Regions from separate parts of the Homo sapiens genome. Here region 2 is linked to region 1. The links come from fine-mapping of genetic effects on gene expression. Tissue or cell type: nucleus accumbens. Region 1 holds a variant in brackets; the other region holds the start of a gene. All regions are shown on one strand. Distances are from middle to middle.

Region 1 (4,256 bases):
TGACATCCTGGACACAAATCCAAGCTGTCCCACTCCCTAACTGTGTAGTCTCAGGCAAAGTCCTTATTCTCTCTGCCACTCAGTTTCTCATCTATAAAGTGGGAATCAGCAAGGATATCTCTTTTTTTGAACATTACTATTACCTTTATTTATTTTTTCAATTGATATATAATATAGGGTTACATATTTTGGGGGGTACATGTGAAAATTTAACACACTCATATATTTGTAAAGATCATATCAGTATAACTGAGATATCCATCACCTTAACTATTTGTTTTCTTTATGCTAGAAACATCTAAATTATTCTCTTAACTATTTTGAAATACACAACCTGCATTCTTAAAATCTCTAATTTTCACTACAACCAACCTTGGATGACCTAAATTTTAATTAACTTAAGAACATCTCAAAAGCACTTGGAATGACTGATCTCACAAAATAGCACTATCGTTTTTCCACATGGCTGTACAAAAAGCTGAGGGGTCATACTTTATTCTGCCTTATCCCCACATACTTCACACACACAGCTACTACAGGTCTTACCCTCCCTACCTCCAAACACATACTGTCAAGGTCCATTTCTCCCTCTACACATGGCTGCAGCATTGATACCATCAGCTTGCTCCTCCCTAGACTTCCGCAATATTTTCTAATGGTTATTCTCACACACTATCTTCTCCCTCTCTAGTCCATTCTTTGCACAGTGACCAGAGTCACTTTCTGAAAACATGAGTCAGATGATATTGTTCCCATTCTCTAACCCTCCACACTCACAATACAATCCAAACTCCTTACAATGGCTTAAACAATATTGCTCCTATCTGCCCCTTCAACCTCATCTCACCAGTCTGTGCATTGTCTGCCAGGCTCTAGGCACTTGAGCTTTTCCCTGCTCTTGGAACACACGGTGCCCATGCACATTGTATACACACTGGCAAAAAGTCAGTCTGTGCCTAGCTTCTTTTTGTTATCCAGGACTCAGCTCAAATGTCACTTCCTGAAAAGGAGCTTCACTTACAACCCCATCTGTAATTATCTTTATCTTGGTCATTTAATACTCTATATGTGTTAAAACACAAATCCCCATATGAAATTACCCTGCTCATTGATCTGTTTACCTACTTATTACCAGTTTTCTCAAACTAGAAATGATATGTCCGGGGACCATGTTTGTCTTGTTCTCTGTGCTGTTTCCCCGGTGCTTAGATCAATGCTCCACACATAAATCACTGAATGAAAATTACTGAATTAAAGGAACTGGTACCTATTTCACAAAACAGAAATGACACAGATATTAAAAGCAAAGTAGTAGGAGCAACCAATGATGAAATTAGACATGAAAGGATTCAAATTTTTCATAGACCTTGTTGCAAATCCACAGCAGTGCTTTTCAAACATGGATGAGTACCACAACCAATTGGAAAAATTTCTCAAAATATAGATACCTGCCACCACATCTCCCTGTTTTTCATTCAGCTGACTTATGGTAGACCCAAATATCTACTATTTTAACAGGCAATCCATGATGATTTTGATGAAGTAGTCCACGAACCATACTTGGCAAAATTCTGATGAAAACACCTCACATTACTGTGCCATTAATTTAATGCCCACCATGGAGAACTCTAGGACATCTGGATTGTCTCTGTTAAGGTAATTACTCAAAAGTGACTGGTCCTTCCCTCCCACCTAAGATCACAGTTTGCTTTCCCATATGAGTTCATTGTTAATCTCCAGAGTATTCTTGAGTGGTCAGGAAGATTGGGAATTATTATCCTGTTGAATAGATGAGGCTGGTGTAAGGGAAGTGACTCACCTAATATGTCCCAATGATGAGACTTTCATCGCTTCACTCTTGCTCCAGTAGCCTGTCTAGCAGACTCCACATCACATTTGGTTTTTCTCTGTTAGCTCCTAGTTCTAGGGCACAGAGTACACCCCTTCTCTGATGTTACACTAGAAGGGAGATAAGAAAGCACATGGAATAGTGAGGAAAGAAAGAGGACAGGTAAGGAGGTTGTACGTGTGATGATGTTTTGCCTATACCCCATTCAGTTAACTGGAAGCTAAGCAATGAGGTTTTTCCTCTCCCTCAGCTTCATCTCACTGTCCCCACCACCACACAGCAGTGATACTCAAGATTGCACATGACAGGCTGGGCACAGTGGCTCACGCCTGTAATCCCAGCCCTTTGGGAGGCCAAGGTGGGCAGATCACAAGGTCAGGAGACTGAGACC[G/A]TCCTGGCTAACATGGTGAAACCCTGTCTCTACTAAAAATACAAAAAAATTAGCCAGGCATGGTGGCATGTGCCTATAATAGTCCCAGCTACTTGGAAGGCTGAGGCAGGAGAATCACTTGAACCCAGGAGGCAGAGGTTGCAGTGAGCCGAGATTGCATCATTGCACTCCAGCCTGGGCACCAAAGCAAGACTCCATCTCAAAAAAAAAAAAAAGATTGCACATAATAAGAAATGATAATAGAAATGTAGACTTAAGTCTTAGCCAAGATGGCCGAATAGGAACAGTTCCAGTCTACAGCTCCCAGCGTGAGCGACGCAGCAGATGGGTGATTTCTGCATTTCCAACTGAGGTACCAGGTTCATCTCACTAGGGAGTGCCAGACAGTGGGTGCAGTGCACCGTGCGTGAGCTGAAGCAGAGCAAAGCATTGCCTCACCCAGGAAGCTCAAGGGGTCAGGGAATTCCCTTTCCTAGTCAAAGAAAGGGGTGACAGAAGGCACCTGGAAAATTGGGTCACTCCCACCCTAATACTGCGCTCTTCCAATGGGCTTAACAAACGGCACACCAGGAGATTATATCCCGCACCTAGCTCGAAGGGTCCTATGCCCACGGAGCCTCCCTCATTGCTAGCACAGCAGTCTGAGATCAAACTGCAAGGTGGCAGTGAGGCTGGGGGAGGGGCGCCCGCCATTGCTCAGGCTTGAGTAGGTAAACAAAGCAGCCAGGAAGCTCGAACTGGGTGGAGCCCACCACAGCTCAAGCAGGCCTGCCTGCTTCTGTAGGCTCCACCTCTGGGGGCAGGGCAGACAAACAAAAGACAGCAATAACCTCTGCAGACTTAAATGTCCCTGTCTGACAGCTTTGAAGAGAGTAGTGGTTCTCCCAGCACGCAGCTTGAGATCTGAGAATGGACAGACTGCCTCCTCAAGTGGGTCCCTGACTCCCGAGTAGCCTAACTGGGAGGCAGCCCCCAGTAGGGGCAGACTGACACCTCACACGGCCGGGTACTCCTCTGAGACAAAACTTCCAGAGGAACGATCAGACAGCAACATTTGCTGTTCACCAATATCCACTGTTCTGCAGCCTCCGCTGCTGATACCCAGGCAAACAGGGTCTGGAGTGGACCTCCAGTAAACTCCAACACACCTGCAGCTGAGGGTCCTGACTGTTAGAAGGAAAACTAACAAACAGAAAGGACATCCACACCAAAAACCCATCTGTACATCACCATCATCAAAGACCAAAGGTAGATAAAACCACAAAAATGGGGAAAATACAGAGCAGAAAAACCGGAAACTCTAAAAATCAGAGTGCCTCTCCTCCTCCAAAGGAACACAGCTCCTCACCAGCAACAGAACAAAGCTGGATGGAGAATGACTTTGACGAGTTGAGAGAGGAAGTCTTCAGAAGATCAAACTACTCCAAGCTAAAGGAGGAAGTTTGAACCCATGGCAAAGAAGTTAAAAACCTTGAAAAAAGATTAGATGAATGGCTAACTAGAATAACCAATGCAGAGAAGTCCTTAAAGGACCTGATGGAGCTGAAAACCAGGCACGAGAACTACGTGACAAATGCACAAGCCTCAGTAACGGATGCGATCAACTGGAAGAAAGGGTATCAGCGATGGAAGACGAAATGAATGAAATGAAGCATGAAGAGAAGTTTAGAGAAAAAAGAATAAAAAGAAACGAACAAAGCCTCCAAGAAATATGGGACTATGTGAAAATACCAAATCTACATCTAATTGATGTACCTGAAAGTGACGGGGAGAATGGAACCAAGTTGGAAAACACTCTGCAGGATATTATCCAGGAGAACTTCCCCAATCTAGCAAGGCAGGCCAACATTCAAATTCAGGAAATACAGAGAACACCACAAAGATACTCCTCGAGAAGAGCAATTCCAAGACACATAATTGTCAGATTCATCAAAGTTGAAATGAAGGAAAAAATGTTAAGGGCAACCAGAGAGAAAGGTCGGGTTACCCACAAAGGAAAGCCCATCGGACTAACAG
Region 2 (4,521 bases), 56 kb after region 1:
CAGAAATGTGTTTGCCTGGAGACAGGGCGGTAGGAGGGGTAGGGACCCCAGGTACTATAGAACTGAAAATGTTATTTCCTACGAAATAATAATAATAATACTTAGGCTTATCTGGTTATTTTAGGAGATGTGACTAGGTATCATTATAATTGGGCAAACTATCAAGTAATTGTTATTTTCAAAAATACTAAATTCTTGTACCTGACATTTAACTAACACTTAATAAATTCCTGGCCTCTTAAAAAATTACATTGCAGAATGGATGAAAACACGCTAACCATGAAAGCATGCATATTACAATCTCAAATTGCTATGAAGACCTTCTAACCACCTGCATATTTCAACTTCCATCCGAGATACATGGGAATAATGAATTATTATTTATACAGTCAGAAAACTATGTGTAAATTTATTACAAATGCATGTTAAATATCAAGTTTCTTCCCCAACTGAACAATTCATTGCTTTAAGAAAGGTAGCTCCAAATGGGCCTCAAGGGATACTACAAAGCATGTAGCTGCTGATGCACGCAATGAAATCCACCTGTTGAGCCTCTTTTCCAGTGATAAGATCAAAGTGGCTGCTCTACTTTTAGACTACTTTGTGAACTACACAGCTACTATTCTGCAACATACTTCTGCTCAGATCTATGAACTCACTTGAGCCAGGCATCATATCCCACCAAGGATGGAAGTGCTAGAGATCTCCTGAGGACTGCTGTCCTGCAAATCTGAAGTAGAAGCTTCAGCAGTCATCATGACCTAGATCATCAGAACCCACCTCCTTCAGACACCTGATATAAGTTTAGTTGCCCCCGTGAAGTGCTTCCTGGGGAGAGACAGACTCCAGCAATCACTATGCTTTATTGAAGTGACTCTGTGCCTGCAACCATGCTGGGCACTGAATTAGTGACCAATGACACTGACACAATCAGGTAGTGATCATAACAACAGAAGGAACAATGAGTTTCTCACCAGGGCCTTTTCTTCTCCTTTCCATCTATCACCTAATAACAACTTTAAAAAAGAATGAGGAAACTGCCTGAGCCCTTGGTAGAGGAACACAACCACTACCAACCTGTAGCCCAACACCAAGGAATCTGGCACTGGGGACACATACCCCATCTTTCCCTCACTCACTTGCTAGTATCTCCCATTGGCCAAACCCAACTGGAAGCCTAAGGAGAAGGGATCTGAGTTGATGTAATCTATAAGGATCAGACCTGTGAAGCACAGAGTAGGGTGGTGAGGGGTGGAAGCTTTGAAGAGACAAATTGAGGCTATCCAGCACAGTATCTAATATACAACTGTGCTGTAGGCTGAATAACACTCCTCTGCCCCAAAGAAATCCATGTCCTAATCTCTGGAACAAGTGAATATGTTACATTACATGGTAAAATGGACTTTACAGATGTGATTAAGTTAATGATCTTAAAATGGTGAGGTTATTCTGGATCATATGGGTGGGCCTGATATAATTACAAGGGTCTTTATGAGGGAAATAGGGAGGCAATAAAATCGGAGAAGTAGATGTGACCACAATATGGAGGTTAGAGTAATGTGAGGGCATGAGCCAAGGAATGCCAGCAGCTTCTAGAAGCTGGAAAAAAACGAAAATTCATTCTACACTAGAACTTCCAGAAGGAACATAGCCCTGCTGACACCTTGATTTTAGCCCAGTGAGACCTACTTTGGACTTTTGAACTCCAAAACTGTAAAATAATAAATTTCTGTTGTTTTCAAAAAATAAAAGAAAAGAAATAGCCTGAATCCATAAAGCACCCATCGTCCCATAACAACCACAGGGCTATCTATCATCTTGCACCTGTGTTATCACTGCAGGTTGCAGCAATCCTGTGGGTGTGCATTCTTATCCTCATTTTACAGAACGGGACGCTGGGCTCAGAGAGTCCTTACCTGTCTGATCCTCCCACGTCCCGCCTGTATAGAAAGTTGCCCCAGGACACCCGGAGCAAGACATCACACTCACTGGGGCGAGGAGGGTCCCAGCTCTTTCTCTCTCTCATGAGACCGCCAGGGCAACTTATGCCAAAGCGGGAACGAGGGAACTTGGATCTGGGCTCCTTTCGTCTCTCCACACCCCAGGAAGGTTCAGCCCCCACCGCGGGGCACCCACACCCTCAGCTGAGTCCCAAACACCTGAAGGCGGGACCCTGCTCTTCCTGCCCGGCCACGTTGGTCTCTATTTTAAAAGTCTTCACGGTCGCCGTTATGACGTCAGGTTTCTATGGCAACCGTGATACGCAGGCTGGTCCAGCACACCGGAAATGCCATAGAGTGGCCTTTTGACTCCTTGGCTTTCACAAAGAGAAAATGGCTTCACTCTTCAGGCGGCTTCCTGGGTAGCTATAATAATTAGAGGAACTAGGCTGGGACGGAGCCAATTGATAGAATTCTGCCAGGTTTGATGGAACAATGTCCCGGTTGTCAGTAGTTTTGTTTAAAAGTGACAGTAGAGGAATATCACCAGTGCACAGAGACCTGGAGCTCTTGGAGATAAGCTAGCTCACTGAGGAGGAGCATGTACAGTTCACACACCACACTAATCAGTTATCCATCTGTGGCAGAAAACTAAGACTGTCTATAATCATGTGACTAAAAGATCTAGGAACAACAAAATAAGTCATTTAAGATATCTCAGAGTTATTTCAGTAATGCAAGCCTAGAAACCTAATCAATTCAACCATGCAATGGTTTGTCTTGAGAAAATTCTTATCCTTCATTCCTACATGTGGAGGGACATTCATGACCACAACATTTCTAGACTCTCTATACACTCAATCCTTTTCTGTCACAGGAGGAACTTCTCTAATTGGTGAGTTGGGAAGAAGAAAAAGGGGTTGCATTGCCCAGGCTGCCTCCCTTCAAAATTCTTGGTAGTAAGCTGCTCTTCAGGAGCACTTGTTCTTCCCTGCCCTCAGAGGTGGATCTTTTTTTTTTTTTTTTTTTGAGATGGGGTTTCACTGTTTCACTCTTGTTGCCCAGGCTGGAGTGCAATGGCACAATCTTGGCTCACTGCAACCTCCGCCTCCCGGGTTCAAGCAATTCTCCTGTCTCAGCCTCCTGAGTAGCTGGGATTACACGCATGCACCACCACACCCAGCTAATTTTTATTTTTAGTAGAGACAGGGTTTCTCCCTGTTGGTTAGGCTGGTCTTGAACTCCTGACCTCAGGTGATCCGCCTGCCTCGGCCTCCCAAAGTGCTGGGATTACAAGCATGAGCCACCGAGCCCAGCCCAGAGGTAGATCTTACAATAGGCCCACAGTGCTACTCCTCTTTCTGTGCCTCACTGGCTCAACTATTTCTATTGTCTTTCTCCAAATTGCTTGGATTTTTTAAGCAATTTACCTCCATGCTTCAAGTCTAAGCTTGAAATCAAGTAATAAATAGATGAAAGAAGAAAAATACATGGACTTTATTCCTCATAAAGAAGATACTGGAGAAGATGACTTAGATTTGCTGGCATGTGGGCTTCCTATGAAGGATCCACAGAATTGAAAAAGATTTATCCACCAAGTAGTGCCATGACAGGAAAATCATAAAGGCCAAGGACTGCAATGCATATCAAGCTGCTGTCTGGTGCAGGAGTCCTATGTGTTCCCATGGAAAGTAGCTTCCTTGCAAGGCTATCCCCTGTAGCAGGAGAAAGAGTTTCAAGATCTCTTCTTTCAGAAACACTTCTTAAAGTACGTAAATAACCCTTGTTCAGAACGAATACTCACCAAGCCAAAGCCAATCTCTGAGGCTTTCCCCGTGGAGTCATTTGTGACAACACTTTGTCAGTACCTTAATTCATGTGATTTCAATAGAGGCTCATCTCATGGAATTAGGTTCTAAATTCAGAGTAGGTTGAAAATCATATATTGTGATAGCTTCCATTGAAAATTCCTTCAAGAAGGAATTGACTAAATATTCAGAAATTTATACACACACACAAACAAACACAGAGACTATACTCAAAATTATTAGTATAACAATGTCCCACCAAGCCTTCAAGGATAAGAGAATCCCTTTGATATCCAATGATAACAAAGTACAGAAAAAGGGGAAAAGTTCACCCAAACCATGTTTTAGATAACCATTTCTACCTAACGAATACCCCAAAACAAACCATTTATTATCTCTCAGAAATCTGAGTGTTGACTGAGCTCAGCAATGTGTTTTCTGCTGCATGTGGTGTATGTTTCGCGGGGCTGTGGGGCTACACTCCACTGGGACATCCAAGAGAGTTTACTCACATGAAAGACAATTGGTGCTGATGCCACCTGCAGCTCAGTTGGGGTTGCTTCCTGGAGCACCTTGGTTCAGCACAGAGTCCCCATGTTTAGGGCAACCAGATAAAATAGAGGATATCCAGTTAAATCTAAATTCCAGATAAAAATGAATAATTTTTTAGTGTAAGTATGATGGTTAATTTTATGCATCAACTTGACTGGGCCATGGTACCCATATATCTCATCATCATTATTCTGAGTGTTTCTGTAAGGACGGTTTTGGAT

Which allele goes with the higher level. Alleles are on the strand shown, and positions count from the first base shown. SD is a standard deviation of normalised expression in the study named.
With allele A in place of G in region 1, the expression in nucleus accumbens of the gene that starts at base 2,233 in region 2 is lower (small effect, 0.25 SD a copy in GTEx).

Evidence for each region. PIP is the estimated chance that this variant, and not a neighbour inherited with it, causes the effect.
Region 2: LL0XNC01-250H12.3 starts here. The variant in region 1 is the best candidate, but not a certain one, in a credible set for the expression of LL0XNC01-250H12.3 in nucleus accumbens (GTEx, PIP 0.77).

Annotation. Positions count from the first base shown.
Region 1 is chrX:103,458,918-103,463,173 of GRCh38, reverse strand. It overlaps LL0XNC01-250H12.3 (a long non-coding RNA gene), which reads right to left. Exons shown (of 6, transcript NR_188440.1): 4 at 1,820-1,959. Among named protein-coding and RNA genes, the nearest start is that of LL0XNC01-250H12.3, 56 kb to the right of the region's middle. RefSeq lists an enhancer at 2,498-2,997. The variant G/A (reference allele first, on the strand shown) is at 2,241.
Region 2 is chrX:103,402,492-103,407,012 of GRCh38, reverse strand. It overlaps LL0XNC01-250H12.3 (a long non-coding RNA gene), which reads right to left and starts at 2,233. Exons shown (of 6, transcript NR_188440.1): 1 at 1,917-2,233. RefSeq lists an enhancer at 2,073-2,242.